Regions from separate parts of the Homo sapiens genome. Here region 1 is linked to region 2. Evidence: fine-mapped expression QTL. A gene starts in region 2. The other region holds a variant in brackets. All regions are shown on one strand. Distances are from middle to middle. Region 1 overlaps RAPGEF5 (Rap guanine nucleotide exchange factor 5). Region 2 holds the start of RAPGEF5 (Rap guanine nucleotide exchange factor 5).

Region 1 (16,448 bases), 230 kb before region 2:
TGTTCCTTTCCGGCATCCTCCCACGGCCTTTTCCCTTCCAGCTTCTGAGGCCTAGCCCAGGTCAACTGAATACAAAGAAGCATGAACAGTTCTTATTTCCTACATTAGTCAAGTCACTTAAAAAAAAACACCAAAAAACTAATTAGTTCTGGCAACTGCAGGTCTACACCAGCTTTCCTAACCACCGTGAGCTGAAAGGGTCTTAAAAGTCTCCTGAGACGGCTGTCATCTGATTTCTGGATTGCCCTTGCAACCATCTCTGCTGGTTGATTTCGGGTCTGTTTGCACATCTCTGATGGGGAAGAGCTCATTGTCCTGAAGGCAATTCTGGTGGCCTGGGCTGCTCTAGTTAGGGCCAAGACACACACACACACACACACACACACACACACACAGTTACACAGAGGTATATACGTATCCTTCTCAGTCTGGCCTCCAGATTTCCCACCTTGAAAGGGACTTGAGAGTTGAGACACCACAGCCCTGTTGTTGCTGTAGAACTTGGGAAGGGCAGGGCACGGTGGCTCATGCCTGTAATCCCAGCACTTTGGGAGGCTGAGGCGGGAGGATTGCTTGAGCCCAGGAGTTTGTGACCAGCCTGGGCAACATGGCAAGACCCCATCTCTACAAAAAATACAAAAATTAGCCACGCATGGTGGTACACACCTGTAGTCCCAGCTACTTAGGGGGGCTGAGGTGGGAAGATCACCTGAGCCCGGGGAGGTTGAGGCTGCAGTGAGGCATGAGCTGTGATCATGTCACTGCACTCCAGCCTAAGTGACAGAGTGAGACCCTATCTCAAAAAAAAAAAAAAAAAAAAAGAACTTGAAGAACTTGGGCAGCAGCTCTTGCCGCTGTCTCAAGGCTTCCAGGTGGGCTAATTGCTTTAATTGCTTTTGAGACTTCAATGTCTTTGCCCTCTGTTGATGTCGTGTTGTTTTTTGGTCGGGACCCCAAGAACAAGGTGACCAGTAGAGGGATTTTCTCAGGAAGTGATTTTCACTCAAGTTGGGAACTTTCACACAACTTGGGAACTTCCAGATGTCTGTGAGTAAGAGGGGCCTTCCAGAGACAAGGGTACACTATTACTTCCCATGGTGGCATTTCGGGCAAGCCAGCCTCTGAGGCTGGGACTGCTGTTCAGGGTCTTCCAGGGAGAGGAAAAGTCCAACCAGGAGAACTTGGCGTTTCTACCCACCCATTTCCAGGTTGGAAACCTGGGAATATAGGAACCACCCAGAGATAATGGCGTGAATCCCCAACAGGGGAGCTTGTTCTTTTAGAGGAAGATTTCCAGACCTGTTGAGATCTTCTTCACGGTGTGGCTGTAGCAGAAAATAATGGTGACATGATATGGCTAGACAGGGGGGGCTTGGTTTACCCTGGTTCACAAGTGTCACGTGAGGAGAATTTGGAAGTTCCTTAACTCCAGGCTGGAGGGAGAGCAGTGGACTCAGAAGGTGGCTACAGAGTTTACTATGGGACTGCCGTGGTGAGCAGTGACATGACCTTGTGGCAGAAATGCCCATAAAGCTAACCATAGGGTACTGTCTCAATTCCCAACACTTGGAAGACCCCCATCCCCAGGATAAGGATGGATGATTAGAAGCCACAGTGGGGCCAAACACAGGCCGAGTTTCTCCTGGGCAGGAGAAACAAAATAAAGAAATGCGACTGGACCCAGCTCTGAGTCTGGCTGGATCAGGGATCTGAGTGCATTCCCCAGGAGCCCTGCACTAGCTCAGTCCTCAGGATGCCACTTTCTGCCTAGAAAGTCAGCCCTGCTGCTTAGGTGCTGGGAAGGGGAACTGCTATGGCTCTGTTTAGGCAAGAGAAATTCCTGCTGCCTTCAGTAACAGGAGTACTTCAGTAAAGAACATCAGCAAGTCTAATGCTTTAGGAATCTCATTTGTTGAAAGTAGTGAATGAAGAGCAAAGGCTCATGGGGTATTCAGAAGACCTCAGACAAAAAACCTCAGACGCAACCTCATGCCTTGAGTAGGATTCTGTTGCTAGTGCACCAGGGCCAGGACCAGAAGTTTCATTTTGAGTTTTGAGTTTTGCTAACAGGAACAGGCTTCTGAGTTCACGGGAGCCCTGTGCATCTTCCCAGTACCGGCTATCCCACTCGAAATTGAAGAAAATCTCATCACGTCCTTAGCAATGGGTATTTCTCTTTCTTTCCTATTCCCTTCCCAAGCTGGAACCTAGGGCTTCTTCCCATTCTCCCTTCATCTCCTGCATTCTCCAGGTTCCAGGAGGACCCCATGGGGTCAGCCCCTACAGATGAAGTGATTTAGGGATCAGGACTTCTCTCTTCCAGTGGCTGCCTTAGAGACAATGCCCTTGTGTTTTCTCTTCCCATTTCCCCTTGTTTCACAGAAGTGCCACTTCCTGGTGATGAAAAACCCAAGAAAATTATCTTCAGGTCTTCTTTCCCATTTCTCATAAAAAGCCAAGCCCTTTGCATGGATGTGCGACAACAGGTGGCTTCATCCACGAGGTACTGTGCTGAGCCAATACTGCCGCCCACAAGTGGACGGAGGGAAAGGGCAATTTGTCAAGAAAAGACTGTCCTGAGAGACTGTATTAGTCAGCTGAGGCTACATTCTGCTGAGTAAGAAACCACTACCAGACCTCAGAGACTTCTAGTGATGATGTCTGATTTCTCACTCAAGTTAGACGTCGTTCACAAGCCAGGACTCTGCTCCATGTTTCCTGTGATCCAGGACCCAGGCTGACAGGGGTGCCTTCATCTGGAGCAGGGCAGGTCTCACAGCACAGCAGGCATGGCAGGTGCAGGCTACCTCATAAAGCTTCCACAGACATGTCTCCCCATTTTTCACTGGACAGAGCAAGACACTGGGCCACTCCTGGGTTCAAGAAGGTGAGGTTTATAATCCCCCTGCAAGGGGGAGATGGACACATGCCAAAGGCCAAACTTGACCTCGATGGGCAAGATGTACAAATTTCCTGTTTACACAGAGAGAAGATGCTGAACACTCAGTCTGCGCTAGTGTATATACCGCCTGGCATCCCACTGCCCCAGAGCATCCTTATTATCCCTGTGCTGCTCCATCCACTCATGGCTCTTCCGCTGTCAGGACCTCTATCCTGGGCCCCGGGCATCACCACTGGGCTGGTAGCTGCACTCAGTATCTGGGCTGGTGAGGGACAGTTCCTGGTCCTGCTCAAGTAGGGTGAGGCAATGACAATGGTTGCCAGATTCCCCAGATTTCAGACTCTGAGAACACTGATGCAATTTCCAAAATAGGGTGTTTAGGTTCTGCAATAACCCAATGGCAGGATAAGTGATTTAGGCTTCTATGGGCTGCCTGAGAACCTCTTCATCTACTTGTAGCTCTTTCAGTGAGCAAATGACTTCTGAGTTCCAACCCCCTGAGCATCATATGCTGCCAGAACAGAGCTATTTAATCCACACACATCACAGAGAAAGCAAGAAACTAAGAGGCATGAATAGTGTCTTTAACATAGTCTCATATTTGGAAAAGCAGTTTTAAAAAAAAATTGAAAATACAAGATAAGGTAAGGGTTACTTATATAAGTTTTAACCTTATATTGCTTGGCCATTTTTACATATAAATTATTGCTTACTAGCTTCGATAAATACACAGCACAGTCATATACATATATATTATATATATACACAGAGGCAGAAAGCATGGAATATGGGAAAGAAAACACTGTTAATGGCAATTCTGGTAACTCAACAAATGTTTCATATTTACCAGTTCTTTAAATGGTGGAAAACTACCAAGTGTAGTCCCTGAGAAGTTAGGTAGACACCCTGATGGCGGGTTCTCTATCTTCTAATTGTTAATGCAAGCTGACAATATCACAGCAGCCCTAATTAATGATACATTAAAAGGCAAGATTTCTTGCTTCAGGTCACTGATTTCATCCCAGTATTTAATAACAGTGTGATACGAATACAATAAATAGACTATGCAAATAAATATTACTCTGCTAAAAAATGTTTAGTATATACAGCTTTGCTTTATACAGTAATACATTTGCATCTAACTTTTTGGCAATTTTTAAAAACTTCCCCCCCGCCCCCCCACCAGTTTTAAGCAAAACTGGCCCACTCGCTAAGAAGCAGGCTGAAATTTTAAGGACATGTTTTTGAAACATTTAAAAGAAATCCTGTGTTGGACCACTGCGGAAGACCCGATCGTCCCCATTTTAATGTTTTTGCCCAGTTTCTGAAAAGCCTGGATTGGCTGCGCCATTTAGGAACATTCAGTTCCGGATCTGCGGTGTCTGTGCTGGCTAGAACAGACTCGCAGGGCTGGGATATGGGTAGCAGTGAAAGCCCAGCTCCAGGGATAAGAAGTCATCACTGGTACTCTCTCTTTCATGCCACGATTTCTCCTCCACTCAGAGGCAAGTATATATTCATGCAGCATCCTCTCCCTGTGGACTAGGCAGTGTGAGCACTGACCTTATCCACATGCTTCTAAATTCGGTGTATGCTCCACACTACCTGTTTGTGGTTCTCGGTCTAGGGAAATGAATTTATTCTAAACATAATTAAGGAAACTAGAAAAAAGTGAATGCAGGTCATGTGTATCACTATAATCATTTGGCAATTATACAGATGACAAAGAGCAAATTCAAAACACCACACTCTAGGGAACACCTGCAAATGTGTATGTAAAACAAAATTTTTTTTAATAGCAAGGTTGTGATTTTGCCTACGGGGTCCTGCATTCTGCTGTCTTGTGCTAACTTCTAAGCAGGGCTAGTTTGCTGGAATGCTGACGAATCCAAAGACCCACAGGACTGTCTGAGAGTTGTGCTGTAACAAAAAGAGCCCACTTAGAAGTGCCCCTGCACCACCTGGTGCCGAAGGTGCCAGATTACGTAAGATTTGCAGAGTGAGCGAAGATTTTATGCAATAATAAAACTCCAAATGAGAGCTGGCAAAGAGCTTAGCCATCTTCTAGACCACGCTTCTAGCCAGAACAAACCCTATTCTGAAGAGGCCTTGGTGAATATCCAGAGAGGGTGCATGGCCCATCCTATTAACAAGGAGCACTCAAGCCCCACCACTGTCCACCAGTGAACAGCTCAGATTCCTTAGAAAGAGCTTTCTGTTGAGTAATATCTGGTTCTCACAATTCGGGCTTGAATTCTTTAATTCCAGATCTAAGATTCTGCAAAGCTTTGGAAACTTCTGAGAGCTGCTGCCTGGCAAACCTCTGGAGACAGTTGTTAAACTTCAGAAAGATGCAGAGATTTTAGACATTCAGAAGACAAGGATGGAAAAGCAAATCTTGACTGCACAAAATCCTCCCTTCCCTCTGCTACCCCTAGGACCACCTAACCACGGCTGGAGGAAGAGGTGAACAAGCATCATTTTCTCCCCAGCCAGTTTACACCCATGTCATGTGAGATACTCTGAAGTCACTGTACAAAATGCATTTAAATACCACATTTGTGTAGCTTCATCTGGCTTGGTGGGCATATCTGACTTGGGGTCTGAGCAGCATGCAATATGCTGAAATAGTTCTCCATGGAAAATTAGTCCCCTAAAGGTAATGTTCTACTAGGAGCAATGTAGTTCTAATGTAAATAAAAATCCAAATTTTGAAACACAGAAACAATGTCAGGATGGCCTTATATGATTACACTGGCCAAACCTTAGTCCAGGGCATAGGAAAAAGGTGAGAACACGTGCTTGTGCTGTAAGCCCATGCTATTGTTAGTAACTGCGTGAGGAGGGCTTTGGAGGGTTTGCTCAGCCCAGCCGTGAGGGAAGTCTGCTCTCCGGTTCTCACGGCTCTGGTGTCCTGTGGGCCACATTCCATGACGGCAGCATGCAGCATTTCTCTGAATGGACCAGCCCTGGAGGATGCCCTTCTATAAAACCCTATAAATGTTCAGGACTGAAGTTTTACATGCTGGGCCAAACTAAGTCTCTCTCAAAGTTCTCCCAAACCTTCTCTCCACATGGTTCCTTCCAGCAGTATCTCAAGCTCAGTGTGGTTCCTGAGCCCAGGAAACAGCACTGCTATAAAGATGTCAAAAAGCATTGGACACGCCTCAGTAATGAGGATGAATGAGGCGTTGATGAGACAAAAAGGAAACAGGTCTGTGTGGGCATGAAAGAGATGAACAGGCAGGAAGAGTGAGAAGTGCACCAAGACTCCTGCATTTGGAAAATGAATGGACCAGGCCCTTGCATTTTAGCAAGGTGACAAGTATCTAGCAGGCAGGGGTGGATTTCATTATTTTGACCCATAGGCTGTTTTGTTCATGTGAAGGTTGAAAGAAATCCTCTAACCAGTCCTTGAAAATATCAAGAGGTCTTATTTGCTACAGGAGCCTCAATTGGTAAAAATGGGAATAATAAGATTTTAGAAGACTCAGATTTTGAAAAAAAAAAAAAAAAAGGCAAATTATAGAAAGGCTCCCTGCTTTGGCTGGTAGTTGGA[T/C]TATAGGACTTCTAAGTTGCCAACATTAATCAGACATTTGGCTATTTCAGGGCATTTTTCATTTGCCAAAACACTAGTAATTACCACTATCTTATTACCTAGAGAGTGCTAAGTGCTTCACTCATTAAATGTCACTTAACCTCCCTGCACTGGCTGCTGTCATTCCATAGTGTGGGCAAGGAGCCTGTATGAGGTACGCAAAATGCATCATCAGGCACAAGAATGCAGACTTTTGTGACTCTGTCACCTCAGCAAGCAGTTGGTGAGTGTTTGCAATGTGTCAGGCACTGTGCTTTTTCAAAATCATATTATGTCCAATAAAAGATAAGAGCCTGCTTAGAAGTATAAAGAAAATCCCCAGAAATTAAACAATGAGTCAATTTCTTAAAGATTACTATTTTTCCTTACTGGCAAAGCAACTTCATCTACCTTGCCTATAGCTGCAAATCAGTTGTACAGAAACTAATTTCACCTGCAAGCATGTGTCAATAGTTGATTGTGGTGCAAAGTGATGCACACCTTGACATTGTTCATCTGCCCATCAGAGCATGGATGCTAGCTGCAGTCCTCACTAACTCCCTAGACACAAGTGGCTTTTGGTGATGTCACAGGTTGTATCAACAGAAACCTCTCCTCCCTGGAGATCTAGAGATGCTGTCTCTGTCATCAGGTGTTCAAAAGAATGACTTCTTTGACAGCTTATGGACAGTAATCTAAAACTAGGCAAAGTAAAAACTCCTTCCTGTTTCATGCACGCTCTTAATGAAATATTTGGTCATTGCATGTCAAGACGTTGTCTTGTCTTGATGCTGGCACATCTCATATTGAAAACTGGACTGGATCAACAATGTGATCATAAGAAACCAGCCTTCTCCATCTCAAGAATGCTTCTGACTCTCCTTCTGCCTTCTTGTCCCGAGAGTAGCATGGAGAAACCTCTCCCCCTCTCTGGTGGCTGACATCACTTCCTGAACACGCTTTGGCTGGCTTTCCTGTGAATGTCTTGGGTTATACTGATAAAACTCAGCAACTTCTTTTCTCACAGGAAAGCAACGTGCTTGGCATAGACATTCCCGTAGCTCAAAGTGCTGCAGATACAGGGGAGGTGAGGCAGTGGGGCTCACACCCGAGGCTCGATCCTGTGTGAGAGCTCAAACAGAGCCTGCTGGCTGTCAATGACATACAGGTGATTAACATAGGACTTTAACTCTTGATGCTCTTTTGGAGACAGGTCACCTGTTGTTTAGAGGGGGAAAAAAGACAATCTCAGGAGAGCAGTAATGCTGTATCTACATACCAACAAAACCCCACACTAAGGCTGAGTAAATGTACTAGGTGGGTTCTCATTAGTCAGAATCCCATAAGAGGTGTCCTTGTCCTACAGTAGAAATGCTTTTTCAGCTCAGAATGGATTCCTCAGGTCAGGCAATCAGACTGGCAGGATACTTATAGCATTTATTACCTAACATTGTATATTATTTAGAAATTACGTTATTATCTCATTCCACAGATGGGGAAACTGAGCACAGTCACGCAGCAAGTTAACTGTCACAGCCAGGATTCGGACCCAGGACAGATGGTTCCTGAGCCCTTTTAGGTAGCCTTTCACAGCAGTTACCTGTTTAAATGGCCAGCACTGGGTCCTATATCTCAGTCTAGAAGCGTTGAAAATCGCTGATAATGTATTTAGCATATGAATGCAATCACTCTTTTTCTGTTGTTTAGATTTTGTACAATTCTTTGGTATTCTCATTTTTTGGAAAAAAAAATTTAATGGAGCAACTGAATGAACAGATACAACAGAACAGACTCTAAGATGTGGTTAACAGACGAAATAGCTTCAGAAAGTATGTGTATGGACTAAAGTCTACCCAGAGAAGGACAAGACAAGGGGCTTTTCCACTCACATATCTAGGGCAGTCAAGGAATCGAGGGGCCAAAGGAGGCTTTAGTGCACTGTGAACACATCCACACCCTGCTAGCGTCCGTGCTGATAAGGAACCAGGATGAAGCAGCATGAACCACGAGGCAAGCCCGTGCACCACAGTCAAACACACACACACACAAGCAAACCATTTGAGGCTGGGGAACACTGGCCAAACTGCACTACAGTAAAACAATGGAAAGGTGAGTGGTGAAGACATCATATCCTGTTGCTTTGTAGATTATGCATGGGACAGGCAGGGTGAGCTGCTGGAGCTCAGTTTGAGCAGAGGGAAGGGAAATGCAGGAGGCTGAGCATTTTCTTATAGCATTTTTTTCTCTTGGTGAAACCCCCTTTTTTCTCCTCTATAACAAATGTATTTTATGAGGAAATAATTTAAGACCTGTATGACATGGGTGGCTTATAATTCTTAGGTTTAATAGAAACAAGGCTTCCTGGTTTTAGCAAGTAAACACACTAGGTGTTAAAGTTTATACCATCCCACCTGTTTGAAAGTAACAAAAAGCTGTTTTATTCCAGAATGCCTTCTCTGGAAGACGTCGAGAAAGTTAAACATTGGTTTGGATAACACGATGCTACAAAGGTAATTTTATGTTAATTTTCAAGCCTTAAAAAGATGGCACAATGAATGGTTCTAACCATGGCAACTGACATTTGCATGACACTTTATAATGCATAAGTGACTTGATTAACATTTTCATATTTTATCCCAAATGCTGACATTGGTTTACTATGCTCATATAAACCGTTAAAATGAATTCGGATAATTCAGTTCCCAAACCAATTTTTTAAAGATACTGTATATAAATATTAGAACATCAACTGGCTTGATAGTTACTTAAATTTCTCCTTTGCTCAGTGCCACACAGAGGGTTGCTCTCTGATGAGTGGGAGGTTCAAGGCAGGTTCAAGGCCACACAAGTTAGTATAACTATCACCTTCCTGTCTATACTTGGAGCATATATAAACTAGAGTTCCTTGGTTAAGTGAGACTGATATCTTAGAATTAGCTGAATCCCCAGTAAACACTTGGGAAGCAAAGGAGGATAAAAGCAATATGAAGCTGTACTCATCAGCATTATGCTTATACATTTCAGTGAATCTCTGTGATGATGTTATGATTACTATTTTTATTGTAACTGCATTGCGCTTGTATGCTTGATGAAGAATTATATAGGTATATTAAAGTGGTACTAATTGATGTGAATATTTAGAAAATTAGGTCCTGTATTTATAAGTCTCCTTTTCAAAGAGAAAACATAATCCACACAGAAGTCCAGTTCCTAACTTACTTTGTTGGGGGACAATATTGCCAGCCTAGACCAGCACTGAACAGAAAAAAATTCTTAAGCAGGTGTACTCAATTGTTAGCAGTACTTTTCTTGAGAAGTAGGACTCTGATTTTCTACTTTATATAGACTTCTATATTGTTGAAAAAATTGTTTTACAATGGGCATGTCTTACTTAAAAAATGAAGTTGAACTGAGTGGTTGCCTTTGATTAATTTATAATTATTGAACTCAATTTTCTATTTTTTATTACCCTTTGTATCCACAGGATCTGTAGAGGGCAAAAGAGAGGGCGAGGAGGTAAGGTAGACTCAGTCTGAATAATAGCTAAATAAGTGAATCTCTCTGAGTCTCTGCTTTTTGTTCTACACCTACAGGGTTAATAATCCCCATTTGCTAGGACTGATGTCAGGATTCCATTGCCCATGTGAAAGCTCCTTCAACTCAATGAAGTTGATTTCCTTCCTTCCTGCAATGTTCTAACACCATTTAAACATAGTATAAATTATGGCTGAGATTTAAAAAGGAACAAATATTCCTACATACATTAGTCTCAGTGGGGATTCTACAAAAGTGCTCAGAACCACACTTTTGCAGCTGAAAGGCAGCTCCAGACAGGAAGTTTTTGTTGGAGAGGAGAAAAGATTCTGGAAGGCTGCTTTAGGCACTTTTACAAGCTATAGTCCTATTCCAGGAAGGCTCCACGCAAAGAGGTTAGGGGCAAGGTCACCCCTGCTAAACTCACCAGTGATTTTGAGCCAATGGACAAGCAAAGCAAGACACTGTGGGGACAGGAGTCAGCGGGAGTTGCGGGGAGGAGGTTTCTGAGTGTGTAAAGTCACTCTTCACAGCATAAACTTGCTGCCATGAGGGGATAATAATCTGCCATATCTTGTCTTCCTCTGCATCCCCAACATGCAGTGAGGAAACAAAGAGACAATCTACTATATATATACAATATGCGTATGTATATACATATGATACTTTTCAATCTGTTTAAATTGATTACCACCCAATACTTGTGACCACAGTTGGTACCAACGTAGAGTCAATTTACATTCCGCACCTGACTTCAATTACTCACCAAACTGGTTAGTCCTGCAGTGTCTCAGGGTTCGGACAGTGTCTGCGATCATATGCTGTAAAGTAGAACAGGAAACACATCAATGGAAGGGTCGTTGAGGGTGTTACTGAAGAAGCAGTGCCTGCTAGGATGGAAGGATAATCTAGCACTCTTGGCTGTAATAAAGAGAAGAACTGTATTTGGAGCTGGATGTAGCTTTGATTCTATGGAGCTTGGATTATCAAAGAATATTTAGTCCTTATCTGCAAAAACAGTAGCACCAGAATGGGTGAGGTGGCTCTCACCTGTAATCCCAGCACTTTGGGAGGCTGAGGTGGGCGGATCACTTGAGGTCAGGAGTTTGAGACCAGCCTGGCCAATATGGCGAAACCCCATCTCTACTAAAAATACAAAAAAATTAGCTGGGGGTTGTAGCAGGTGCTTGTAATCCCAGCTACTCGGGAGGCTGAGACAGGAGAATCGCTTGAACCTGGGAGGCGGAGGTGCAGTGAGCCAAGATCCCATCACTACACTCCAGCCTGGGTGACAGAGTGAGACTCCGTCTCAAAAACAAACAAACAAAAAACAGTAGCACCCAATCCGGGTTGCACAGGTTCTTATGAGCCATGAGAAAATACATTGTAGAGAAGTGCAGCACCCCCAGCCCCAGTCATCCTGTTCACATTTGCACATGTGTTTCACTTCAGGGTATGTGTCACCTCCTCTCCATGAAGCCTTTCTGAGATGTCCCTCCTGGACTCAGAGGCTCCAATCTCAACATCCCCACTGCTCTTCGTACAGCACCTATTGGCTTTGTGTCACTGTCATTGCTGTTGAACTTTTCTCCTTCTTTAGACCAAGTACCACCAGAGGGCTTTGGATGTGCAGAGCCTACTATGTCAGACACATTGACTTACACATATGTGCTGAATGGAGGTAGGAATTCTTGTAGATTCAAAGGTTCAAGTATCTTAAATTGTAACTGGAAATGAGATACTGACAAAAGATGAACATTTTCTAAAACATTAACATCATTTTTTTTGTTTTTTGAGACGGAGTCTTGCTCTGTCACCCAGGCTGGAGTGCAGTGGTGTGATCTTGGCTCACTGCAACCTCTGCCTCACCAGTTCAAGCAATTCTCCTGCCTCAGCCTCCTGAGTAGCTGGGATTACTGGCATATGCATCATACCTGGCTAATTTTGGCTAATTTTTGTATTTTTAGTAGAGATGGGGTTTCACCATGTTGGCTAGGCTGGTCTCGAACTCCTGACCTCAGATAATCCAACCAAATTGGCCTCCCAGAATGCTGAGATTATAGGTGTGAGCCACTGTGGCCGGCCAACATCAACATCTTTAGAGACCATTTTCTGTTCATAGTTTATATTCACGTACAGTCTTCAATATTCTAATTTAATTTCTTTCCTTGAAGTCCTCACTGATTCCCAGGCAAAAGTCTTCTTTTTTTTTTTTTTTTGAGATGGAGTCTTACTCTGTCACCCAGGCTGAAGTGCAATGGCGTGATCTCGGCTCACTGCACCCTCTACTCCCCAGGTTCAAGTGATTCTCCTGCCTCAGCCTCCTGAGTAGCTGGGATTACAGAGGCATGCCACCACACCCAGCTAATTTTTATATTTTTAGTAAAGACAGGGTTTCACCATGTTCAAGTCAGGCTGGTCTTGAACTCCTGACCTCAGGATCCACCCACCTTGGCCTCCCAAAGGGCTGGGATTACAGGCATCAGCCACCCCACCTGGCCGGCAAAAGTCTTCTTAAATGTACAGCTGCTTTGGACAAGATCCCATCATCTTATACTTTTGTACTTGCAAGAGTGAGCTGTCTCTACCACTTTTAGTTTTTCATGTTGAAGGAAGTAGCATTTTGGAAGCATATACGTATATGCCATAAGAGGAACTAGAGTGCAGTATGTTCTCTTCCAAAATGCTATGCTAGCTGGCTTAATTGCCAGAATAATCTCTAAATACTATTGTCTTCATGTTCTAGTTCTCTTGAGAATCAACAGTAGCTCTCTACTTTGTTTCATATCACAATACAAACATCATCCTATTATTCAAGAATTAATATCATTCATATCTGGGCCTCCAATTTGGGTCAACATCTTTCATGTCCCAACTATACACACTGAGCATAGGATCACCATATACAGCAAACCCTCAATGAATTATTGCTGAAAGAATATTAAACACTAAAATATGTTCTTACTTAAAATTCAGAAGAAATACAGAAATATTATTGGAATATGACCTACTGATTGAATTGTTGTCATAACCGTATTTCTAATGCACTTCTATTCGATAGTGGAAAATTGAATAGGACAGTGATTATTGCAGTAGCTCAAGCTGCATTTGTAAAGGAAATGAGACCTGACTCATGTCTGTGCATGTATTGTTCAGTTTCCTTCCCCAGATTTTACCACTTTTCCCAGGTCAGTTTTCTCATTTTAAGCTCTGGCGTCACATTGATTTCTATCATATGCCATTTGCGTAGCTTGTGCAAGGCTCAAACTGATGTAAGGCTGGGTAGTGGGTGTGGCATTGAAACCTGAGTTCTGGTCTTCATCTTTAGGCTTTCTAAAGGGGGAGGGGGTAGACAGGGTAAAAGATGATGCTCTTAACATCGAGGGATAAAGAGAAGAAAAGAAACCATTTGTTTCTTTTTATGAAACAGTTTGAGATGAAAACATTTCCAGTAGCTGAGGCAGCAAGGAATGTAGCATAAAGAACAGAAATCTCATTAGACCTGATGAGGGCTTCTGGATTTTCATGGGGTCTGACTCAGTGTACTGGCCTGCATCAGTCAGATAAAGATAATACACTGAATTATCTGTTAGCTGGCTTAAGTTAATATCCATCATGAGGAATTGACTTTTCACAAGTTAATTCACTTAGGTTCTATTGGTTCATTATCGTGAAAGATGATCCTGTTTTACCTTTAGAGAAACCCAGTCCTTTACTAAGAAATATTCCTTGAAAATAGTGTTTCTCCTAGAAAGGTCAGTCTCATTCTCCAGCATCCAAGTGTAACACAATGCTATATATGACATAAAACTGCTTTTTGTCCTGGACACAGTTTTATCCTGTCTACTCTGTGTAAGGAGGGGTCAGCATGAGGCATGCTGTGGACCAGGAGCTCACTAGTCCCAGGTGTGGAGCCTGCCCTCTGAGGAAATGAAGAGCCCGTGCCTGCCTGACGGGCTTGCGTGTGCGCTATGTGAGTGCTGTGTGCATGCTGAACTGCACCCATTTCTTCATTCTTTTATAAAATATAATTTCTCTTTAGGAATTTAAAATATTATTTATGCCATGCTATTCCCTTAAACTTTCTCAAAGAATTAAGGGTATGATGATTGACCCTAATAGAAGTCATATCATTTAGACCTCCTTCATTTCCAGCCCTATGGTTAGTTGGCAGTCTTGGCATATTTGAGAGCTGGCGTTAAGAGGCTTCTGCTGGATTACTGGAGAGAGCAGGGGAGGGCCACAGATGCTGGTCAGAAGGAAGGTGGGAACAAGCTTTCCACAGCTTGTTCCCATTTGTGACTTTATGGACTTGTTCAGGTTTTTTTTTTATTATCTTGTCACTTTGGTGGCACTATCTGAGGGGGAAATGACATAATGAACTTAACAAATTCACTGGTTCACTTTAGGGAGGTCAACCTCACGTCTGCCCTCAACAACAGGCAACAGCCAGCTGATAAAGAGTTTAGTTGTTCTCCCACGGCCCCTTGGACTAGTCAGGGGAAAGGATTACTAGGCCTTTCCAGGGAATTCCACTTGGCGTGACACACCTCATCCCACATCTTCACAGATGCTCCACAAATCTCATGTGTTGTTCTTAGGGAGATGTGTTGGCCAGGAAGCGAAGTAAATATTGACCAAAGGCTTCATATTCCCGCAATTGTTTCATTAATCCCAAACGACAGGGATTAACCTGCTTAGAGGCAAGAATTCTAGTGCCTGCAGCCTTTCATTAAGTGCCCTGTGATCTTCAGAATATCACACAGCAACACAAAACACGTACAAAAAAATAACACTTTATCCATTTCTGGCTCTGTTGGTTTGACTGTAGCATCTAAAATAACTGAGCTCTGATTCCAAAACACTTACTGCAGAGACAAACTTGAAAATGTATTGACAGAGCCACTTAGAAAAGCACTAGCCGTGAAGTGATGGTCTTCGGTGTGGTTAAAATGGAGATAAAGCAAGATATTCCAAGACTGTATTCTATATTCCAGATGCTTGGGTTTTGGGGGTTGTATAAGGGTTGTATAAGAGCCAACTACACTGTTCCCAAGCTGCTTCACCCTACATGTGGGGAGTTGGCTGGGTAAGCAGAGCAATGTACTTCTGAGGCAAAGGTCAGGTGCCAAGCCTCAGCAGGACTCATCAGTTCCTACCGTTCTTTGATCATGGTCTGTGGTCCCTGCCTCACTTAACCTCCTCTCAAGTGCCTGACTCAGTCTCACAGGGAACCAGGGTCAGTTTCTGCAAGAGTTCACACAAATCCATCACCATTACTGAAAAGGTCACTCAAAGGTCAGGATCTGTGGAGCAGGGTTACTGGTATCGTCTTTAACCATGAAGGACAGTTTACTCTATGACACTAAAGTTCATCTGTCAGATAAATCCATTCCTCTTGCAGGCAAGTGGGTCTCTTTGGAGTACTTCTATTTTACAGTTGCTCAGTTCTTATGGGTAACCCCTCCTTTGCTCAAGGGCAAGTCAGAAAGGCTTGGAGGGGCCCACTGTATTACAAAGCACCTGGGAATGCCCTGGAAATCATTCAGGAAGCAGTGGTTCAGAAACATTTAGAGAGGATTGCCCTGGGAACCTCTTGCTTGTAAGGAGGGAGGGTACTTTGCCTGAGCCGCTCTGGCCGTGGTGCTCAGGGATGGCACCCTTTGTCCATAGGCTGATAAAGGAGTGGCCCTTCCCTTCACACAAGACCCTGCAAATTCCAGCCTCACATTTAAGCTTGGAGTCCTGAGAGACAAACATATATCCCCAGGAGAGGAACTTTTTCCCTCTGTGCCTTGAAAGCATGCAGGCTGAGACACTGAGAGATGCCTATAAAGCAGTAAAACATAATCTCCTGAGTGTGGATTCCTCCTGACAGCAGCCTTACAGTTTTAGCTCTGGTTCAATAATATACCCTCAGTTCTTCATCTTATCATATTCCATTTTTAAAAACAAAACGCAGATTTTCATATTTGGTTCACAAAAACCTTGCTAACATACTTGTTGTTAATTGGAATACATTTTGTTGGCAGCGTACAACATGCAGCAAATAAGCTCCTTGAATGAAGCAAATAAGCTCCTTGAATTCGCCATGCATCCAATGGAGAAAAGTACTAAAACTATTTATTTCCTAGAGCAGGAAAGAAAGGCATACATTTCTGTTACTGTAAAAAAGGGAGAAGTAATGAAATTTACGTACCAGCTTTTCAAAATTGACAAGATTATCCAAAAAAGTTTTATTTCCTTCATGAATAAATGTTACATCTGAAAATTAAAAACAAAAAGATGTATGTATCATTAGGAATGGATCATGAGTCAGGGCTGAAGAGGTCTAGGTACAATGCAACTTATTCATTTTTCCTAAACATTATGGATCATTCCATGCACTTGGAGAGGCAATTTGAAATTGGATTTATGTGTTATTTGATGTAAAAG
Region 2 (16,448 bases):
GAACTCATTCTACCTCTTCCAGTTTTTCATACAGGCCAGAAAAGGAGCTTGCATGCCTTATAAATCTCCAAGTAGATGTGTACTATGGAGCTGAGAAAACAATGACTTCTAGGATGAGTCATCCCAAACCTTCATGTTTCTTGTCCAATGGCTGGTATTGCTGGGAGATGGCTGACAGCTACTCTGCTCAAGCCATGGCCAAAGCTTCTGAGTAAAGACTGATCCCTTCTCATGAAGACAGAGGGTACATTGGTGGTTACCAGAGGCCAGGAAGGGTAGTGGAGAGGAGGGGATGAAGAGAGTTTGATTAACAGGTACAAATATACACTTAGATATAAGTGATGGATTGGGTACGGTGGCTCACGCCTGTAATCCCAAAACTTTTGGAGGGCAAGGCATGCGGATCACTTGAGGCCAGGAGTTTGAGACCAGCCTGGCCAACGTGGCAAAACCCCATCTCTACTAAAAATACAAAAATTAGCCAGGTGTGGTGGCACATGCCTGTAATCCCAGGTACTTGGGAGGGAGGCTGAGGCACAAGAATCGCTTGAACCCAGAGGTGGACGTTGCATGAGCCAAAATGGTGCCACCGTACTCCAGGCTGGGTGAAAGAGCAAGACTCTGCCTAAAAGAAAAAAAAAAAAAAAAGCAATAAGACCCAGTGTTCCACAGATCAGTAGGGGCCAAGAACAGTGGCTCACACCTGTAATCCCAGCACTTTGGGAGGCTGAGGCAGGCGGATCACTTGAGGTCAGGAGTTCAAGACCAGCCTGGCCAACGTGGTGAAACCCTGTCTCTACTAAAAATACAAAAATTAGCCAGGCATGGTAGTGGATGCCTGTAATCCCAGCTACTCAGGAGGCTGAGGCAGGAGAACCACTTGAACCCAAGAGGTAGAGGTTGCAGTGGGCTGAGATCCCACCAATACATTCCAACCTGGGCGATAGAGTGAGACTCCATCCAAAAAAAAAAAAAAAAAAAAGGGTGACTATAATTTAACATTAATTGATTGTGCATTTCATTTCAAAGTAGCTTCAAGAGAATAATTTAAATGTTCCTAAAGAAAAGAAAAATATTTAAGGTGATCAATATCCCAATTACCCTTGATTATATTAATGTATCAAATTATCACATGTACCCTGAAAATATGTATCAATAAAAATAAATAAATGACTGATCCTGGAAGCCATTACTGAAGAGAGTGGAAAGAGAATGAGTTGTGCTTTACACTAAGACTTGAAATGTTTCCTGCATCCATTGTTTCAATATACCATATGTTGTTATCCTTTCAAAGTTTTAGACACGATATTGCAGACAGGCTACAGTCTTTGAAATCAGGTAGTTCTGGGCTCCATTCTTTCTCTGCTATTTCCTACATGGTTAGCCATGGGAAAGCTTTTAACCTCTCTGGATTGTAATTTCCTCATAGGTGAAAATACCTCTTCCCTTCAGGGGACTCTGGAGGTTTCAATCTGAAGAAGACCTACCACAGTGGCATCTGTGGATTTTCCCTTGTCCGTACCCATTAACGAATGATTTACCATAATAATGATTTGCCACAACAAATTAAGTCATTGATTTTTACTATTTTATCTTCATATAAAATCTTATGATCTCTCAAAAAGTACTTCCAGATCATATATCATTACTGGAATTATCTATACTCCTAACAAAGATTGTTATGCAGTATTGAGGCAAAAAAAAATCACAAGCGCTCAAAGTCACTACCAATGACTTATTTCCTACCTTTCCATCTATTGCTAGCTACACAAGTTGCCAATTACTGCCACATCAACTTAAGAGAAAGTGCAAGTATGAAATGAAGCCTATTTGTTATGGTATCAGTATTTAGACGCTACCTAAAATACTCACTATATGTTGGGATATCATGTGCTTTTAAAAAATAGAATCCAACATTGCATATGAAAGCAAAAATGTTTGTGTCTAGATTTCTATAAATATGTCCATGAAAGTCCTTTTGCATAGAGTAAGCATCCTGCCAGGGACATAACTATTTAAGTTCCAATGTACCCAACACTTTATATTCTATTCATGGAAAAACCTGATCCACTGTGTATGTCATTACAGAGGAAGACACTGAGGCTCAGAATGCTCAGAGAATAACTAATGCAAAGATAATAAGTGATAGCACTGGGATTCAAACCCACTCTGAAGCCACAGCCTGTGTCTTTTCCTGGGATCTAATTATGTCACCAAAGTGTGGGGGTTGGGAGGGAAAGGAAGAAATAAGTAAATAAAATATTAACTTGCCATTGAGTTCCTTTGCTAGAATTCACACGAAATTAAATGAATCTACAGTTTCTTTTCCTTCTTCCCAAATAAATATTTTTGAAGTTGGCATCCACAGAGCTTTATTTTATCTGTAGCCATAGCTAACACAGTTTTACACCAAGGATCAGGATAGTAGTTTGTCAGCAAGCAGAGGCAGTGAAGTCAATATTTCTCAAATAAGTTCACTATGTGTCCCTCATATCTGATCTGACTCACCCTTCCTGGCAGATGCATGCCTCTCTTAATGGCCTTTATCTTCTGGCTGCCATAAGCAGATGAGAACAAAGTAAGCTGGGTGAATTCACAAGGTTTTTGGATTGACCTTGATCAAGTGAGCATGGCTGATTTTGCTTATGACACATGGATGCTGTTTTGTTTTGTATTTTAGTTGTTTGTTTGTTTGTTTGTTTTTTGTAGCAACATGGTCTTGCTTTGTTGCCCAGGCTGATCTTGAGCTATTTTTAATTTAAGTAAACATTAGTTACCTTTCGCCTATAACCACAATGCTTCTCCCCACTTCCCCTAAACCCAATATGTCAATAATAAGCTTCTGTGTGCCCAAATAAAAGTGAAAAGTCTGACATTATTAATGGCATTTATTTACCTCTCTCAGAGTGGTAAGATAATATCAGCAGGTACTATAAGGCTATCACAGTTTAGAGTAAATAGACCCTTTGCCCTCTCAATGCATTTGAGGAAAACTAAAGTTAATTCAGAGCATGGACTTGGCTCTACGGAAACAGGATACATAGATGCAAACCTCCCTTCTGGCACACACTCTGTAACCTCGGGCAAATTACACCTGTGTTTCAGTTTCTTCATCTGTGGAATGCAAATAGCAGCATCTAACTCATAGGCTCATAGGCTTGTAGTGAGAGTTGAAGTTTATATCAGAATATGCATGGTACATAATTAAGTGCTATGATGTTAGCCATTGATTTCAATTTAAACACAAAGAATAAATGACATGCTTTGCCTGTAAAATAGGTGCCTAAAACGGCGATACATTGGGCATACTGGTATATAATTTGGATCGGTTTCTATTTCTCAATCAATAAAGTCAAGTTTCTAGCAGAGGAGGGTATTGAGTCAGAGCTAAAGCACTCCAGCTTGTACAAAGGGAAAGGGATACTTTGTTCCTTTTTGAGACGGAATCATCTGGGCAAAGAAAAAGAGAGAACTTCATTCAGAGGGCTACCAGCTGTTCTTCCCAGTTTCTCAATTTTGAAGAGCACAGGCCATAAGAACCCTGGCTAGTGAAGGGTGGTTAAAGAGAATTAGGCCCTTCTGATGACCAATCCAAAAGCTGGGAATCACTGAAGGTCTTTGGTGAGCAATTTGGCACAACTGGTGAATCATTCTGGCTGCTGTAAATGAAACAGATACCAAGACGTTGAAGACAGTGGCAGAGGCTGCAGAAAACATCACAGCAGCCAAAGCCCAAAATAAGTCAGTCCCAGCATTTTGACAGTATATACAGAAAAAGGGAATAGCTGTTATCAGTTCTTTTATTAGGGGGAAAATATCAGTCTTAGAAACAACCTGATGAGAAAGACTTAAAAAGATACAAAAAAGTAAGGTAGGAGGCTTAAGACCAAGGGAAAAATAATGCAACCACTAAGAAAGGTAAAAGATGGGGAAATGAACGATTGTCAGTTTAAAAAAAAAAAATTCATCAATGCTCCTTGGGAAAATGGCTGATTTCAGGGTTTCAGGTCGGGAGCAGCAGACTATGGACAAGATGCACTTAGAATATCTTGCGTCAGAAAAGTAAGAAAGGTATTTGAGTTTACTGGCCATTTAAAAAGTATACAGGAGACAAAGATAAACCAAGCACCAAAAAGGATATTGACTGAAGTGACAGAAACAAATACATTAAGATTCATAAGTTCTTAATGACACTTAAAAAAGAAAAACTCACTGGTTCTCACTGGAGATTGTTAAAGCACCAAATCATTACTCTGATAGTTGGTAAAAGGAAAAAATTAAGACTTTTCCCTGTCTATCCTGCACATTGTGAATTTCAGGAGACCTAAATAATTTATGAGGGAAAGTTCTTTACAGACCGAATTCCAATTAATAAATGCAAGAAGAATGATGGATTTAGATCATCACCATTTTGCAACCCCTAATGAAAAGGATCTAGGCTACAACGATCTGTGATACTAAAATCATTAAGTAGAAGACAGACAGCTAAGTGACACTACCTAAACTCACGAATCAATCTTTCCATCTCAAAAAGAGAGATATCCAGACATTATGCGTCTCACGATGTGATGCAATAGATTTTACACAGCACCATCCATGAAGGTTACTTGTCTTTGAACCTATATCTAATCAAACCTCTATATCTAACTGCCAGATCACAGGAAACAGAATAGAGGAACAAGCTAAACATCACCACAAGGAATCAGTCCAGACAGTAGGATGTTCTACAGCACAAATGAACCACTCTCTTCTGCAAATCACTGGCATGAAAAAAGGGAGGGGAAGCTGTTATAAAATAAATTAGAAATCCTAACAACTAAATACAATATGTGGACCTCATTTAGCTCCTGTTTCCAACAATCATAAGTAAAAAGACAACTTTGAGAAAATTTGAATATGGAAATTATATTTTTAAATTATTAATATTTTAGGTGTGAAAAAGGCAAAGTTTTGCTGTTGTTTTTAATGTCCTTATCAGGACCGTAAACTGAAAAATTTGTGAGTAAGACAACATGATGTACGGAATTTTGTTTTAAAATGCACTAGCCCCTACAAAAGTGTATGGAGGGGGAAAATAAATGAAACAAGACTGGCAAAATGCTAATAACTGTTGAAGCACAGGTGTTCATTATACCATTCTCTCATAATCTCTGTTATACAATTAAAAAAATTAAAGGGTTTTGTCAGGAACTCAGGTTGTGCATTACTTTGCTACTGATTTTTAAGAGGTAGTTAGGGCCCTCCCACAATGTACAACTTAGTCTTTCCCTCATTTGTCTTAAAGAAGTGCAAAGAGTCTTAACCAGTATGCATGCTGAATTCAACACAACTAGAAGTGACTGAACTGAGGAACCAAGGAACTCAGGCATATTAACCAAATGGCAGTTTGATTTTTTCCTAGTAACAGATAGCCTACAACGTAGTGAGACCCCCAGTCTCTAAAAGAAATAGGAAAAAAAAAATTAGCCAAGCATGGTGGTGTGTGCCTGTATCCCAGTTCCTCAGGAGGCTGAGGTGGGAGGACCGCTTGAGCCAGAAGGTCGAGGCTATAGTGAGCTATGATCACACCACTGCACTCCAGCCTAGGTGGCAGAGCAAAACCCTGTCTCAGAAAAAAAACAAAACAAAACAACAACAACAAAAAAAGCCTATAATGCACCTGGGTTGAGCAACACAACCCACAAAGAACTTTGTTAATGTCAGTTGATGTCAGATTGTCCAGGTTTGTGGGAGCCCAGGGCAGCATGGATAAGGACCACACATATTCCTAAATCAGATCTTGGTCAATATAGGAGATGAAAACTCAACTAACTCATGTAATGCACAAAGCTGTGTCTTTACTAGTGGTAATGGATTTCTGTTAACTTATCCCTGAAGTCACGCAGCTCCAGTCTGGAGGTATGGCCCATGAGACACAAAGCTGAAGGTCTACAAAAAGATCCAAGCCATGATTTGTTTGCATTAGCATCACTGCCCAATCCAAGGTGGTTAACCAGACAATCCCAGATGCTAACAAGTCACCAACCAACCAGTCTGATACATATTCTACTTGTATCTCTCTTTCTTTCAAACCCCCTGTGTTTTGGACTGTTAAGTGTATGCCCCCTACAAAATTCTTATGTTGAAGCCCTAACCCCAAACATGACATTATTTGGAGATGAGGCCTTTGATAATTATTTAGGGTTAGACTAGGTCATGATGGTGGGGCCCTCATGATGGGATTAGTGGCCTTATGAGAAGAGGGAGCCCTCTCTTCCTCTGCGTTTACCAAGGGAAGGCCATGAGAGGATATACGAGAAAGTGGTCATCTGCAGGCCAGGAAGAGAGCCCTCACCAGAAACCTAATCAGCCTACACATTGATCTCAGGCTTCCCAGCATCCTGAGCTGTGAGAAAATAAATTCCTGTTGTTTAAACCACCCAGTCTACGGTATTTTGTTATGACAGCCTGAGCTGCCTAAGACAAGTTCATATTTCACTTGTTTTTCTCCTTCTTTCAACCCCCTTCCTACTCCTTTGATGGGGAAGATTCCAAAATCACAAAGGTAGTTCCAAGGCAGAAGAAAGGGGAAATAAACAGTCAAATAAATAGTCAAAAAGTATGGGTTTCCAACACTGGAAAAACTGACAATCAAACTTCCTTCAATAAAAACTGGCTATGCAGTTACGAAATGTGTTTGGAAAGTCCCAAAAAGAAATAATACAGTATTAGAATCAAAGAGGGTTAATAAAGCATACATTATCTGAGGTAACCACATTCAGAGTAATTAAAAAATAAAACTAAATAGGTATATTGACAAGGTATACGACACCCTCCCAGGCAGCAAGAAACATGAGTATGAACGCAAATAAATACTATAGATCTATTTATACAGAAACCCTCAGCAATTCTTGTCGCAGACTGCCTGGCAGCCCTCATGTCTTCAGTATTCTGTGCCATGAAAAAGTAACCGTCAAGGATAATAGAAACATAATTTGACCTACTTTTCCCTGGATTCCTGCAAAGTCTATAACTCCAGTTCTTGTTTATTCCGACACCACATCTTGGGGACACATTTCCTCACTTACTTTGCAGGCAATCCTAAATGCCACACATGTTAAGGTCACTTGTGGGCAATTCCTAAACTCTCTGGGTCACCGACTTTAAGAATGTCCCATCACACACAGAGAATCCTCAGAACATCTTCTGAGATGGACCTGGGATGGACCATTTTCCACCTGAGATGGAAAATGCCTAGGAAAAGAGAGATGCAGCCTCGAGAAGCTGAAGACCGACATCAGTTCAGACCCTTCCCTACCCAAAGGAGGGCGCATGAAAACAAGTGGTTATCCCTCACTCTCAAGTTTACACAAACCCATCTCTGAAAGAGCTAGAAGTCTCCCAGCAAGGTCTTGTTTTAAGTCAGACAAGACTGCATTTTAAAAATTACAGCCAAACGGGAAAGAAAAACCACATTGATGCAGCTTCTCATTAAAGACCACTTAATAATAAATTTTTAAAAGATGAGTAGAACCCACCAAAGGTGCCGCCAAACCCTGGTGAGCAGGGAAATCTGAGTAAGTCAGCTCTGTGTCCTGAGGCCCTGGCGGGGCCTCCTAGGTGGCTTCTTAAAGATCCCAGGAGACAATCAGCAGACCTTCCTGCTTCTCTTAAAAATACAAAACATGCCTGACCTGCTCAGGTCATTAGATGCACTTAGAACTCAATGAGGGACACTCCTTCACCAGGAAATCGTATCTGAACACACCATCAGGAAGTCAATATTGAAGGTTCTTGGGGGCGTGCACCCTCCTGCTCAAGAGGGTGTCCAGGAGTATTAAGTGCTGGAGACACCGGAACCCAGGAACTGGAAGCTCACCCAAGAGCTTCCGACTCCTGGGTCTGCCCCTCGGCGGTGGAGACCACCAAAACCAGTCTCGATGCCCAGAGCTTGCAACAGCACCTCCAAAACAAGCACACACGTCGCATGCGTCCTGCAAACAGGGATGCCGCTCGTGGGGCCTGAAGCTTGCGGTTGGGACAGGGCTGGCTGGCTGTTGGACGCTGGACACCTGCAGCTTCCCCTCCGAGAAGAGGCAAACAGCTCGTCTTCAGCCGATGCCCGGTCCCGCAGCCTGAATCTGGGGGCCCTGGGGTTAAGTCAGGTGCAGCCTGGTGGGGGGGAGGTGTGGGGGCGGGGGAAGCCGTCGCTCAGGGGGTGGCACCTCAAAACCCGCCGTCCCGGGCCCCTCTTCAGCCGAGTCCGGCAGAAGGGCGTCCCTTCCGCCACCTCCCCAACTTCCAGACGCCCCCCTCAGCGGCCCGGGGGGTGGGCGCGGGCTCCACGTGCGCGCCGCCCGTGCCCACTCGGACAGGGCCGGGCCACTCACCCGGCCCCCAGCGGCGCTCCGCTTCCTCCGCAGCGTGAGCCCGCTCCGCAGCAGCGCGGGCAGGTCCCTCAGCCGCGGCCGCAGCGACGCCGGCGGCTGCTCGCGCTCGGGCTCCCGGGCGCTGGGGCTGCGGCGCAGGGGGCCGTCTGCCGCCACCACCGCCGCCGCGGCGGCCAGGGCCGGGCTCTCGCACGGCGGCTGCATCTTGACGGAGCCCACGGCCATCCTCATGCCCTGACGGCGCTGCGGCGCCGGGGGCTCCTCTCCACCGCGCTCGCCTCCGCGCGCCGTCCGCGCCTTCGCCAGGAAGCGAGAGGGCGCGACTGCGGCTCGGGCGCGGGGCGCGCTGCCAGCCGCTGCCCATTGGCGCGCGCCGCGGCCCCCGCGAGGCTCAGCCCCGCGCGCCTCCCCTCCCCTCCTCTCTCCTCCCCTCCCCGCCCAGGTGCGCGGGCCCCGCCCCGCCCCGCCCTTTCGCCTGCGAAAGCTGCCTGGGACCTGTCCCCCTCGGATCTCCCACTCGGGACCCGGGAGGAAGAGGGCACCTTGGGCACCGGCTCATCCACAGGTGCAGAATTCCCAGAATCTCCGGCAAACCCGCTCTTCTGTCCTGTCCCTGTCCCCCTACCCCTTAGGCTGAAAAGTCCTGCTTCACTTCTTCGAATAGCCAGGGGTTGACTTGGACTTCAACCAAGTGTGCTGGAGAGTCGTCCGCCCTCCCGCGCGTTTTGCACAGCCTGGCCCCTCATCGTAATCTTTACTCCTGGGAACTGTTTTGGCCAAGGAACTTCAAAATAGACACGCTACAAGGCAAACACCATGAGGCAAAATTGCTTTGCGCCGACCCTTCTTGGCACACGCATCCTTAAAGGACGAAGGGAGAAAACTTTTGTTGGTTATGATAGGTGTTGAGCAGAGTAGCTGCAAGTCTGGTGACCTGAAGGTGAATCTCTGTTAGCATGTCAGAACCTGACCTTCCCTGAAAGCCCGCTGCTGTGATGAATGTGCTTGGTGAACTGTAAAGGCCTGCCGTGGTGTGAATCATTGTTTACACCCTTCCAGGAGGCAGGAATTCTGGATCATTGAGAGTGAAACTATTCCAGCAGTGCCTTAAACGCCAGGGAGTGTGAATGTTCACATCTCAGCTCAATCTGTCTTCAACAAGGGCCAGCCAGGGTGTTGACTTCTCATCAGTGGGGCGCTGGGATCCCCATCTTTGTCTAAGACTTACAAAAGTTGAATAAGCTTATTCACATTTTTAAAAAATGACAAGAATCGTAGGAGGTCAGGGTCCAGAGTTGGTTTACCATTGTGCCCTCAGCCACTCACATGGTAGGTGCTTGGCAAATATGTATAAAAACATGCCATGTAACAAAAAAGGAGGAACGAACTGTGACCTCTGCCCTTAAGGAAGGTAAGACTTAACCTAGGAGTAGACAAACATCCAGAAAAACAAAGATATTGCACTTGTACTCTTGCTAATTGCCAAGTAAGTGTAGGTAAGACCACTTCAGGCCACAGGAGAGAGAAATGCTTCTGGCCTGGGATGGGCAAAGCTAAATCCACGAAAGGAAGGAAGTTTAAACTGCACCTTAAGGGTGAGTGGGGAAGATTCAACCAGGCAGAAGGAGGGTAGGTGTCCTTCAAGTAAGGAAGAAAGACATGAGGCCGGGCGCGGTGGCTCACGCCTGTAATCCCAGCACGTTGGGAGGCTGAGGCGGGCGGATCACGAGGTCAGGAAATCGAGACCATCCTGGCTAACAAGGTGAAACCCCGTCTCTACTAAAAATACAAAAATTAGCCGGTCGTGGTGGTGGGCGCCTGTAGTTCCAGCTACTCGGGAGGCTGAGGCAGGAGAATGGCGTGAACCCGGCAGGCGGAGCTTGCAGTGAGCCAAGATTGCGCCACTGCGCGACAGAGTGAGACTCCGTCTCAAAAAAGAAAAAAAAAAAGAGAGAAAGACATGAGAAAAACACAAAGGTGGTATCACACAGAACTCACTGGGCACTGAAAATATGTCATGCTAGTGAAGGGAAAGATGACATAATGAAGAAGTAAGAGAAGATACCAGAATGGATGCTAGTAACACACTGCAGAAGGCCTTAAACCCTGTCACCTTAAGCTGTGTGTGTTAACTGGAAAGGACTTTATAATAGGACTCCATAGTCCATTACAGTTTCCAAATACCTATCACATGCATTTATCCAAGGCTGAAATTGCATTTGTATGTTACCATGTCAGACTCTATCCGTTTTTACAGTGTTAAGATATTGCAGCTCCAGTTGGTAATTGGTCGTTGTCTTGAGCCCCAGAGTGCCACTCACCCCCATACCTCCAACTTCCCCATGACATACAACTAAAGGGTGAACACCTGGCCCACTAGAAGCCCTCCAGGACACTCAGATTAGTGGGTGCTTGCGCCCCATCACCCCAATGACAACATTGAATCATACCATGAACTTACTCTACTCCAAAGTAGAACACGTGTTCCGTCTCCTGGTCCAGGTTCCTGGTCTTCAAACCCATTCACACAGTTGCTCAATGCAAGGCCAGCATTCCTTAGATTCTATGGGATAGACCAAGCGTCTAAAGTTCAAGAAGGGCCTTTGGAAAATTGGTTTAGGTTAAGGTGATAAATGACAAATGCCATTTAGCTTCAGGATAAAAATAGGCAAACAACAGGGAATAGTAGGATGTGTACACAGAAGAGCCACGTCACTGTTTAACTCAAATCAAGCAACCTTTATACTCGCTGTGCCCTGTCTGGAATGAGAGTCCTCTGCAATGCTGTCCAACAGAACTTTCTACAATGATGCACATTTTCTGTTATCTGTTTTGCAGCTACTAGCCACATGTGACTGCTGAGCACTTGAAACATGGCTAGGGTGACTGAGGAACTGAATTTTTAACTTTGTTTAATTTTAATTCATATAAATTTAGATAGCAGCATATGGCTAGTGGCTACCATGTTGGATAGTGCAGTTCTAGAAATCCACATTTCTCTCAGTCAGTGTCTTCAGTTTTTAAATTCAAATGTCACCATTTCAGTGAGGCCTTCCATGACCATGTGATTTTAAATTGCAGTCTTTCCTATCCATTCCTTTCTTCATCCCCTTCCGAATGCCCCACAGAGCTTACCACCATCCATATTCTATATATTTTATTTATTTTGCCTATTGTCTGCCTCCCCACAACTAAAATGTATATGACATAAGGACAGGGCTTCTTTTCTCTTTTGTTCAGTATCTAGAACACATGAGTTGAATAATTCAATTATTTCATATATAAGAACTAAGTTTTTCAAACAGTTTAATCTGGATTTCTATACAAAATCTGATTTTGCAGTATGAAAGCTTATAAAAATGTAAATCATATAAAAATGGATTAGAATGAATAAGATCTACTGTTGGTAGCACAATAGGGTGACTATAGTTAAAAATAATTTACCGTATATTTTTAAATAACTAAAGGAGTGGAATTGGAATGTTCCTAACACAAAGAAATGATAAATGCTTCAGGTGATGGATAGCCCAATTACCCTGATTTGCTCATTACATATTCTATGCCTGTATCAAAACATCACATGTACCCCATAAATATGTACAGCTATGATTTACCCATAATAATAATAAATTTTTTTTGAGATGGAGTCTCGCTCTGTCACCAGGCTAAAGTGCAGTGGCACGATCTTGGCTTACTGCAACCCTCTGCCTCCTGGGTTCAAGCGATTCTCGTGCCTCAGCCTCCCGAGTAGCTGGGATTACAGGCACGCACCACCACACCCAGCTAATTTTTGTATTTTTAGTAGAGATGGGGTTTCACCATATTGGCCAGGATGGTCTCGATCTCCTGACCTCATGATCCGCCCGCTTTGGCCTCCCAAAGTGCTGGGATTACAGGCGTGAGCCACTGCGCCTGACCAAAAAAATTTCTTTTAATGTAAATCATATTTGTGCCAACCACACAAGTCAACGAGACCACTTGCCAGCCACTTGCAATTTTTCCTACAGGATGGGGTACCAGAGCTGAATTTTACTTAAGAGAATGAGATCATCAAAGTCAAAGTGTGTGTAAAGACCCATGGTAAGAAAACACAAATTTTAAGGCTATTGGCAGGATAGCGAAATTGAAGACCAGGAAGATAGCTCTGACAATGAGCTAGCTACAAAGTGATGAGGGCCTGAATTCATTGCGGCAATGGAAACAGAAATGAGGGGTTAGATGTTAGACAGTACAAAAGAAGGCTCCTTGGGCATAGGAGCAGTAGAAAAATACTTCAGATGGTGTTGTGGAGTGTATTGTCCAAAGATGGACAGTTCAGCATCTCCTATCTTCCAAGCTCTTCTGCAGTGTGATATTGCCACTCCCCCGAAAAGAGATGGAGTTTCTTTCTCCATCTCTTTGAATTTGAGCAGACTTTGTGATACAGGAGTTAAGAAGAAATCACTTAGGCAAATAGTAAGGGTATGGGAGTCCTTGGAAAGACTTTCCTTTATAATGAAAAGCAGTACCAAATCATTTTCTAACAAAGAGCAGCCTGTAAAGTGGAGCTGCAGATATAGACAAGCAAGCTGGGAGCTTGCACAGGTCAATGTCAGCAGGAACTAGGGTCTAAACATATTCAAGATGGCGGCTCCAACTTCCCTTTTCTCCCAGCCATGTGTACAGTGAGGACCAGAAAAGATGGTGCAGGCCAAAGGGAGAATTCATTTGCATAATAAGATTAGCATGGGGCGACCAGTCTTCCCCACTTGCTATGTAAACGTCACACCTGATCGAACCAGTCTGTGAGCCCTAGGTAAATCAGACACTGCCTCCTCAAACCGAACTATAAAATCCGGCACATCCACCACCAGCCAGTCTTTTCTGCTGGGAAGACCCCCCTTCTCTCTATAGAGAGAGCTGTTTTTCTTTCTCTTCTCTCCTGCCTATTAAACCTCCACTCCTAAACCCCTCATGTGTGTTCGTGTCCTAAATTTTCCTGGCACAGGAGGATGAACCCTGGGTATATACCCCAGACCATGTAGCCGTTTCACTTGTGAATGATCTGGCCAATAGAATAAACAGAGGTGACTTCACCTGTTCTGTAAATAGCCCTTGGTTGGCCTGGCAGCTTCCACTTCCTGCTGTCTTGGATTGCTTGGTCTTGGGATGTGCCTACTCAGAACCCAGCCTCCTTGCAGGGAGAAGCCCAAGCCACATGGAAGCCCTGTGGAGGTGATCTGGCAGCTGAGCTCCCAGTAAACAACCAACATGAATTGCTGCCAATTTGGGAGCTACTTTGGACACAGTCCAGCTGAGCCTTCAGATGACTCCTGTACTAGTGATGTCTGACTGCAATCGTATGTAAGGAGCTCAAGAAAAAACTACCTAGCTAAGCCCCATCAACCCACCAAACTGTGAGAGATGATAAAGTGTTTGAAGCCACTAAGTCTAGAGGTATTTGTTACATAACAATAGATGACCAGGACACATGGCTCAAAAAATGTGAAGAACATACTCCGTTGTGAATGAAAAGGATGGAAATTTATATCCATTTTTGTACATGCATGAAGAAACTCTGGAAACTTTTTCAAGTCGTTGGAATTGGGCACGTGGGGAAAGGAAAGGTGGGAGATTTTGCATGTACCACTTTTTATATTTTTTTGTTTTTTAGAACATGTGAATATATTACCTATCTTTAAAAATAAAAATTTTAAAAATGGCTCCAGATTTAGAGAAGTCAAAGAGGTAGGGGAAGCCGGTTTTGAGGGTTTAGTTTTATATAGCAGTTATACCAACTAAAGGGTGATCAGATGAAATTCCCACCAGCAAGAGGAGGAGGTGAGCTAGAAATGAAAAGAAAGGACTGGAGAGAGACAAGCAAGCTGGGAGCTTGCACGAGTGAATGCCAGCAGGAACTAGGGTCTAGACATGTTCAAGATGGCAGCTCCATCTTCCCTTCTCTGCTAGCCATGTGTTCAAAATCACAATGGTAAACAGTGGAGCTAGACCAGGGTGCTCAGGGGATAGAGGAGTAGCAGGGACACTCTGTCCCTTGCTAAGCTTGAAGAACATGCTGCAGGTGACTTTCCATCCCCAGTTGTATGGAATTTGGGGCACTGACTCTTATGGCTTCTCTCATTTAATTTTTGTGTTCCTATACAATTACTAAGAATGCTGAGGAAATCATCTGTGAGCTGGTCTTTCCCTTGTGTCATTCCATGCCCTGCCTACCTGTCTTCTTTTAAATGTATAGAATGCACATCAGCCTAATGAAGTCTCCCAACACCACAGCTGTTAGGACTTTGATAAGTCCTCTTTGGAATCCATCTCTTCCCAACATCTCCCATTTTTAAATTTACCCCCATTCAAGATGTTTTGCACTGGTTTAACAGCTCTCAAAAACAGAAAACTTGCATATAATTTTGTCTCTCTATTCAACCCTGCCAACCCTCCAGAATGTAATCACCAAAATGGATTAAATATGAGCACAACCTTCCCAAGGGCTAAGCTGGTTTTTGAGGGTTTAGTTTTATATATATATATATATATATATATATATATATATATATATATATATATATATATACACACACACACACACACATACACACACACACACACACACACATGTGTATATATATAAAAATATGTATATATGTATATATATAAATATGTATATATGTATATATATAAATATGTATATATAAATATGTATATATATGTGTATATGTGTGTGTGTGTATATATATATATGTGTATATATATATATATATAGCAGTTATACCAACTAAACTAAAGGGTGCCCAGATGAAACTTCAACCAGCAAGAAGAGGAGGTGAGCTAGAACTGAAGAGAAAGGACTGGAGAGAGAGAGATGCCAGTGTTCAAAATCATGATGGTAAACAGTGGAGCTAGACCAGGGTGCTCAGGGAATAGAGGAGTAGCAGGGACACTCTGTCTTTGCTAAGCTTGAAGAACATGCTGCAGGTGACTTTCCATCTCCATTTGTATGGAATTTCAGGCAGTGACTCTTATGGCTTCTCTCATTTAATTTTTGTGGCTTCTCTCATTTAATTTTAAGAGAACAAAAAGCAGATCCTTGCAGGAGAAACCCAAGTCTTCCCGTGCTGCCTCTGCTGAGAATGCCAGACAGAACGGTTTGAGTACTTGATACTAACTCTATTTTTATGTTATCTTATGGAATGAATATGCAATTGAGAGAAATGTAGCAAAATAAGGAAACATGTTTCCAACCTAAAAATGTTAAGCCTTATTCATTTTATTTCCGTTTTCAAGAATCATAAATGTAACTATCTGCTATCAGACTGTTCATGACAAACCTGTGTGACACTGTGCTATTATTTTTGTAGTACATCACGCACTATGCATCATGCAAATATCCCCCTTGGGGATGATAAACCTTCTTTATATTATTTGCATTGGTGGCTCCAGCCAGAGACAGTGGCTGATAGGCATGGGTGCCAGATGGGGGCTCCTCCCTATAAGTTCATCTTCTATTCATTCACTAATAATCTTGAAAAAAAGTCTGTCTGTTCATGCCATTTCATATGCTGTTTACTACCACCATCCTGGAAATTTCTTTTTTAAAGTCAGTTGTGCAAATTCACCAGGCCCTTTAGTACTTAGGACATTTTTGAAAAAAAAAAAAAAAAATCTATGTGGTTGAATGCCCAAGAAGACAGAGGAAAAGGGTGATAAGAGAACTAACTTAACCAACAGACAGCAAGAAAGCCAAGACAATGGTGTCCCTTCTTTGCTTGTGGAAATCTACTCATCTTTACACAGGTCAAACAGTAGCTCCTCCTAGAAGCCCTCTCTGTTCTTTCCATTTGGGATTAATCCTTCCTTGGTAAACCTCAGCATTTACCTAAAATTATGATTCCACATTTACCACCCGTGTTATCATAGTCTATCTCTGCATTTGAATTAAGTCAGATTGGCCCATCTCAGCTATGCAAGATTATAAACCCTTTGAGGGCAGAAATTATTCTTTTTTATATTCTCCTCTCGCATCTAATACAGTGGCTACCATGTACTAGATTATAAGCAAATAAATGCACGCATGAATGAATGCTG

The links.
Region 1: its variant is fine-mapped to the expression of RAPGEF5 in lung (TOPMed, PIP above 0.99).

Annotation. Positions count from the first base shown.
Region 1 is chr7:22,114,825-22,131,272 of GRCh38, forward strand. RAPGEF5 (Rap guanine nucleotide exchange factor 5) reads right to left here. Exons shown (of 26, transcript NM_012294.5): 24 at 16,213-16,277; 25 at 10,780-10,834; 26 at 3,412-7,697. The coding sequence ends at 7,582. Among named protein-coding and RNA genes, the nearest start is that of CDCA7L, 180 kb to the left of the region's middle. The variant T/C (reference allele first, on the strand shown) is at 6,462.
Region 2 is chr7:22,348,461-22,364,908 of GRCh38, forward strand. It overlaps RAPGEF5 (Rap guanine nucleotide exchange factor 5), which reads right to left and starts at 8,694. Exons shown (of 26, transcript NM_012294.5): 1 at 8,370-8,694. The coding sequence starts at 8,600. RefSeq lists silencers at 2,392-2,521, 8,160-8,389, 8,450-8,839 and enhancers at 3,312-3,421, 3,712-3,761, 7,970-8,039.